Homo sapiens: one gene and its partner. The protein of the gene in region 2 purifies or fractionates together with the protein of the main gene of each other region. This does not show direct contact. Each region holds a gene or a part of one and is shown on either strand. Other genes may lie near its edges.

The links.
Region 1: the proteins of ZNF131 (region 2) and MTPN purify together in Homo sapiens (affinity purification with mass spectrometry, with the first as the bait; one large-scale study listed by BioGRID). This does not show direct contact.

The regions. Positions count from the first base shown.
Region 1 is NC_000007.14:135,925,945-135,929,470, forward strand, and holds the end of MTPN (myotrophin), read right to left. Parts: 3' UTR 816-3,526; downstream 1-815. UniProt on the Homo sapiens protein: Promotes dimerization of NF-kappa-B subunits and regulates NF-kappa-B transcription factor activity. Plays a role in the regulation of the growth of actin filaments.
Region 2 is NC_000005.10:43,137,914-43,141,413, reverse strand, and holds part of ZNF131 (zinc finger protein 131), read right to left. Parts: intron 2,250-3,500; coding exon 2,105-2,249; intron 1-2,104. UniProt on the Homo sapiens protein: Plays a role during development and organogenesis as well as in the function of the adult central nervous system. May be involved in transcriptional regulation as a repressor of ESR1/ER-alpha signaling.

The DNA.
Region 1 (3,526 bases), on a different chromosome or scaffold from region 2:
CTCAGTCTCCCTCTGTTGCCCAGGTTGGTCTCGAACTCCTGGGCTCAAGTGATCTTCCTTGCCTCAGCCTCCCAAAGTGCTGGGATTACAGGCGTGAGCCACTGCGCCGGTCCTAGATTCCAATTCTTAAAATGAGAACTTAAAAAAATTTCTGTAATCACTTCCACCTAAAGCCGTACATGGTCCCCATTTATACTTCAGTCAACAATGTGAAAGTTCTAAAATACAGCTTTTGCTGTAACTTAGTATCTGCACATATATATTTTTTTTCTATCACTAAAAGTAAACTGCAATAGTCTTCTGGTGCTAACAAGATTACAACACAATCAAACTGATTTTGTATTTAATTTTGTTCAGTTTTAAGGTTCAAAGTGATCACTCATCCTGAAAATTACACTCTAAAAAAGTGCTCGTAGTTGAGTTTGGGAAATGCAGATCTCCAAGAAATGTGGAGCAACTTAGATGAGCAATGAAAGGATCAGAGGTTTAACCACGACTCCATTTTCTTCAAGCCCCCTGAAGATCCTGACGATCTGGGATGTGCTGGCTACACCCTGCTCCCCGTCAACCAGGAGCGTTACTGAAGTTACAGTAAAACAATGTCAGGAGACTGACACAAAAGCAAATCCTTTCAAAGACTGGTAAGGTTTATTTCAATTAAATCTTTATGTTTTATTTTCCCTCCACTCATTTTTTTCTAGAAGTGGGATAAGATTAACTAAATGTTTGAGTCAATCAAGCTTCTGGTATAGTTGTAGAGATGACTACAAAAGGAAGGTGATAATAACTGAGAAAAATGCTGCTGACACATTAGCTGTAGCACAATTCAAGTTTATTCCATTTGTTCTTGCAACACAAAACTTAAAACACAGTATTATTTAGCATTCGGATGTACATGAACTAGGATACTTATGAGAAACCCAACTGCGTCAAAAGTATGACATTGTGGAAAAAATGAACTCAAATATATCAAAATGCACAAAGCACTAGTCTTCCTCCATTACCGCTTAGAAAGATATGATTGTTTCTCCATTTACAAAATAGAATCAGGACAATTTAAATTTTTTATATTTTGCATGCAAAACACTGCAATTGCTTATTTATGTAGGAGGGCACTCTCACCAGCTTCTTCTATACACAATTGAGTATACAATATTGCATGGAAGAAAACAGCAGCTCAACTGAAATATTAGAAAAAAAAATCAAACAGATACATACAGATTTAAAATCCAGTACTTGGGAAAAGATATCAATGAATAAAAGGCCTACTTGTTTGCAGCTTCCACACACTGCACCTACCTACTACCTCTCTTCCATGCTTAACTGGGTTTAGAAAGGTGAGCTATGCGTAGAAGAACTACTTGGGATATTCAAGTGCTGTATTTGAACGATAAGCCTATAGATAACAGTCTGAAGCTGCAAGGGAGACTTTGTTAGTACACTACTATAAACAGGTAAACTACCTGTTTGTACTTGATATAGTGCATATGAAATGACTGATTTAATACAAAACTACAGAACATGCAAAATTTTTTCTGAGATGTTAAGTATTACTTCAGTGGAGAACAAAACTTACTTAACCTTTCGCTAATGCATGTAGTACCAGAAAGCAAACATGGTTTTAGCTTCCTTTACTCAAAATATGAACATTAAGTGTTGTGAATTTGTCTGCCAAGTGGTTCAGAAATACATTATAAATAACCTAGTTAAAAAAAGAAACTGTGAACCATCTTGGTCAGTCTATTCTATTCTATGTTTATATGTTATTTTCTCAAGCAATCGCTTCATAATTATAGGGTTTACAAAAAGGTCGAGAAAGAAAAGCGAAGGCGAAATAGCCTCTACTGCATTACAAGCAACATCAGGATAAACTGTACAAAGAATCACATGGTTTCCATACCATGAATGTAGAAAGCAGACCAGGTTTAGGAATGATAGGACAATGCACTCTCTGCAATAGCCAACTACAACAAAACACTTTGAAAGTAAAGGTGAAAATTATATAAAGGGAAAAATTCAAGCCTTTAAATAGCATTATGTCAAGAGGTGAAAACAAAGGTATCAAAACACCCTGTTGCACTACGTTGATAGTTATAGACTGATAGAGTGCCCTCCATTTTCAATGAGGATGTCTCCATATTTTAGTTCAGTGATGTAATAAAGTACTGATTACTGATTTTTAACCCAACTCTTAATAGGCTGCATTAAGACAGCAAAATTAGCCAAATACAACAAAGTATTTAAACCACTACTTTGTGATTGTTTTCTTGGATGTAGGAAAATTACAGGGTTAGGCTAGTTGTAAGTGAAAAAGCCACAGGATTAAAAAAAGGACTCATGGGGAAAAATACACACACACACCCACACACACCTATACACCCACACACCCACATGCCAACCAACCAACCAACCAGCAACTGATCAGTAAAACTTGTTATTAACCAGGGTGACTGTTCTTGATAATAGATTAACCCTGCTGTAGAATGCTATGTTGCCTTTAAAAACCAATTCAATTATTATCCACAATCTGAGTATCAGTCCCTAACCCACCCTCCCCTAAAAATTTGAGGTACATTCAATTATTGCATGACTTGGTCTTAATATTTTTAGCAAGCTTATATGGATGGCAAGTCAAAGGAATCTTAATATTTTAAATGTAAGATATAAAATTTAAGCTTATATATTTTAATTAGCTGTACTGCTCATGAAATAAATATTTGGAAATATGTGTAAATATTTTCTGCAGGTCATAAGAACACCATTTTAGGGCACTGTATTCCAAGAACAGAGAATACATTTTGAAGTTGTCACACTTTATGTAATGCATGATTTATAAAAGCAACAAAAATATATTATGCAGGTGGGTTGGCATATGTTCAGCAGAAGCCTATCAACAACTCTGGGAAACCTGGTTACAAGTGTATTTTTGAAGGGATGGGGCTAAATTTGTCCAAACAGTAAATCTCACCCCAGTGATAGCTTTGGTGCAGTAAGTAATCAGCCTCCAAGATGGGTCTGAGAGAGGCATTTCAAAGAATGTTCCTTAATTCTCAACACATAACCAAGGTCAATCCATTCAAACAGCAAATAAAGAAAATCCATAGGTACTAAGATAACTGTTCTCTCTTCATATGATACTAACAGGCTTATGGCTATGATTCTATTTTTAAATCCCCTTTTACTACCAGCAGGAGTTTGAAAGTGTTTCAATGCTATATAAATGTATGAATCTAGAGGAGAAAAAAATATGCATACTGGAATGGTTTCTCCTTTAGACTTCCAAAACTTAAGATTTTATAAATAAAACTAGTCAGTTTTATCTAAAGAGACATGAAATCCATGTGAAAGGGGAGAGAAAATCCAAAGTTCAGTCATCCAGCAATTTAGGAGTGTGCCCCTCCTCACCTTAACTAAGCTTTCACATAAAGCTTAAAGTCACCGAGGAAAGATTTGGTCACCAACCTTATAGGCAGCGCTCTTAACTATGCCAGGAAATCCCCAGTAGAGTGCATTCTTAAGGCAGAAG
Region 2 (3,500 bases):
GAACATTCTTTTGGAAGGCTCTCATTCAATATTTAACCACAATCTGACATCGCCCCATCCATATATATTTCCTTTAATCTTTTTGAGAAGAGATGGCCTGATCAGGTTTATATCCTCAGAATGCATCTCTATTTTGACATCCATGCTCAGGTCTCTCTGCAAGAGTACTGATCTGGTTTTAATTAGCATGTATCCATCTATCTATTCACAAATGTTTCCTGTACACCTGCTATATGCCAGGTGCTAAGCATCAAAGAATATATATACGTATCAAGCTCTTGTCAGAAAGGTTTAATCTTGAACTGTCAAACTAAGAGATGATATTTATGGACGAGTACAGTTCAGTATTCTTAGAGTTATCTAAATTTTTATCTCTTAAAAAAAAACTTTTATTCGGCCAGTCACAGTGGCTCACACCTGTAATCCCAGCACTTTGGGAGGCTGAGACAGGCGGATCACTTAAGGTTGGGAGTTTGAGACCAGCCTGGGCAACATGGCGAAATCCCCACCTCTACTAAAAATACGAAAATTTGCTGGGCATGGTGGCAGGCACCTGTAATCCCAGCTACTCAGGAGGCTGAGACAGGGAGAATTGCTTGAACCCAGGAGATGGAGGTTGCAGTGAGCCGAGATTGTGCCACTGCACTCCAGTCTGGGAGACAGAGCAAGACTCCATCTCAAAAAAATAAAATAAAATAAAATTCCAGTAGAGTCCTCAGAGAAATAAATTTTATCTTTTAACTAAACCACAACAGTGAGTTAAGATTAAATCATTGTGCCGCTATGTGAAACTGATTTTACCAAACTGTTTTGGCATCAGGCCAATGATCTGTATTGAGAAACATAAAAAACAGTACCAGGAGATAATAGTTCATACTTAGAGTACTCAGAGTCATTTAGCCAGACACCATGCTAAACACTTTGCATGCATTAATTCATTCAACCCTCACAATCAAATCCCATGTAGAAAGTACCGTTATTACTCTCATTTGACAGAGGAGGACACAGCTGACAGGAGGGTTAAGTAACTTAATTAAGGCCACACAGTGGTAGAAGCAGGATGTTAACCCAGGGAAACTGACTCCTGAGCTCTTATTCTTAGTAACTATGTTACACTGCCATTATTCATCAAGTAAGGATGTTGAGGTCTTTGTTCATTATATCCTTTCACGTTTTCTCTTTTTTAAAAAAACAGGGTCTCACTTTGTTCCCCCTAGCTGGTATGCAGTCAGTGGCGTGATCACAGCTCGCTGCAGCCACAACCTTGCCAGGCTCAGGTGATCCTCCCCTCCCACCTCAGCTCCTGAGTAGCTGGGACCACAGGCATGCACTACCATGCCCAGCTAATTTTTGTATTTTTTGTAGAGACAGGGTTTCACCATGTTGCCCAGGCTGTTTGTGAACTCCTGGGCATAAGCTATCCATCCACCTCAGCCTTCCAAAGTGCTGGGATTACAGGCGTAATCCACTGGGCCTGGCCTAATGTTTTCTTAATACTTCTCAGGAGAAATTTTAATACTAGGAATAGGAATGGCTCCTCAGCAATTGATTTGTTCTCATCTTCTAACAAGGAATAATGTAACTGAATAGTCTTTTTCTTTGAACTAGGTGCACTTAGAGCTAGATTTAGCACATCTACTATAGACTTATGGTATGCATTTTTGGCTATCATACTTCTAACTTGAAATGATTATCTCCTTATTAAACCAATTTATTTATTTCCATCTATTTCCTTATTTTTAAACAGTATTATGTTAATCTTTGTAAGCCAAACCCTTTGTAGGATAAGGCTTGGTATAAACAATAACTTGAATCCAACAAAACAGTTTATAAGGATCCAGATCCTTAAAAAGCTGTCTAGATTTATTTTATTACATACCAAAGATGCTACTTTAATATTAGCAGTTTTAACACATGATCAGAAAATCAAAGTCAAGTGAAAGAACAATCAGTATCCAGAAAATTTTTTAATAGATCCTTAAATATTCTTAATTCTTCTGAAGAACTCTGTTCTTCATGGCATGACACATACTGTAAGTTCTTCACTAACAGAATGAACATGACTGAATATGACTATCTGAACCCCATTAAAGAAATTAAGTACCTGACTTCAAGGGCTTTGATAGCTTCTAGCATTTGTAGAAACTCTGCTGCTTTCCATACATCATTGGCTTCTTCTTCTCCTTGTATCATTAATTTTGCTGTATATGTGAACTCAATTAAATGGCGAAAGGCCATTTTACTAACACCTGTAAAGAAGATGTACATTAGAGCATGTAATCATATTGACTCAAATCTTACAATGTTTAGTAAAGAAAGAAAAGCCCAGGGCTTGGAGCTTGTTGAGTATTTATTTTTGAAAACTATTTTCTGGAAAAATTCTCATTAGCAATACAATAATATTACAGCCAAATTTCAGCACTACCTAGCTGGAAAATCTTAAACTACTTTAAATTTCCTGAGGCTCTTGGAGAACAGTAAGATTCTATCACTCAAATATATGAATTGGCTATTACATGTCAGACATGCTACATTTCTTGCCAGGGAGATTACAGCTGTGCCAACTCAGCTCCAAAATCTTCAATAGCTTTTCACAACTTAGCAAACAAAATTTAGTACCTCTCTGACTTTATTTCAAGGCCCTTCACATTATTTTCCTATTTACCTTTCCAAATTTTAAACGACATCACACACACACTATATACTATTTCTCAAACAAACCCTGCACTTTCTAATAGCTGACTTGCCTTTATTTATTTATTTTGAGATGGAGTTTCACTCTTGTTGCCCAGGCTGGAGTGCAATACAGTGATCTTGGCTCACAACCTCTGCCTCCCAGATTCAAGAGATTCTCCTGTCTCAACCTCCCGAGCTGCTGGGATTACAGGCATGTACCACCACGCCTGGCTAATTTTGAATTTTTAGTAGAGATGGGGTTTCCCCATGTTGGTCAGGCTGGTCTCAAACTCCCGACCTCAAGTGATCTGCCCGATCAGCCTCCCAAAGTGCTGGGATTACAGGCGTGAGCCACCGCACCCAGCCTGACTTGCCTTTATTAACACCCTCCTAGTTGGATGCTTAATCATTTCATCTCTGGTTATACTCATCCTACCACCCACCCCTTAAAGGTCCAACTCTAATGTCACATGTTCAATGAAACCTTTTAACATTTATTGTAATAAGAACATGAGATCTACCCACTTAACACATTTTTAAGTGTACACTATTGTTGACTCTAGGTACAATGTTGTACAGACCTCCAGTTTATTCATCTTGCGCAATTGAAACTTTATGCCCACTGATTAGTAACTGCCCATTTCCTCCTCCCTCCCAGCCCCTAGCAACCCGTATTCCACTCTTTCAATCTATTTGAGATAGCTCATATGAGTGGAAGTGACTATTTTAGATTCCTCATATAAATAGAAATATGCAGTTTATGTCTGTGACTGGCTTACTTCACTTAGCATAATGTCCTCAAGGTTCATCCATGTGGTTGCATA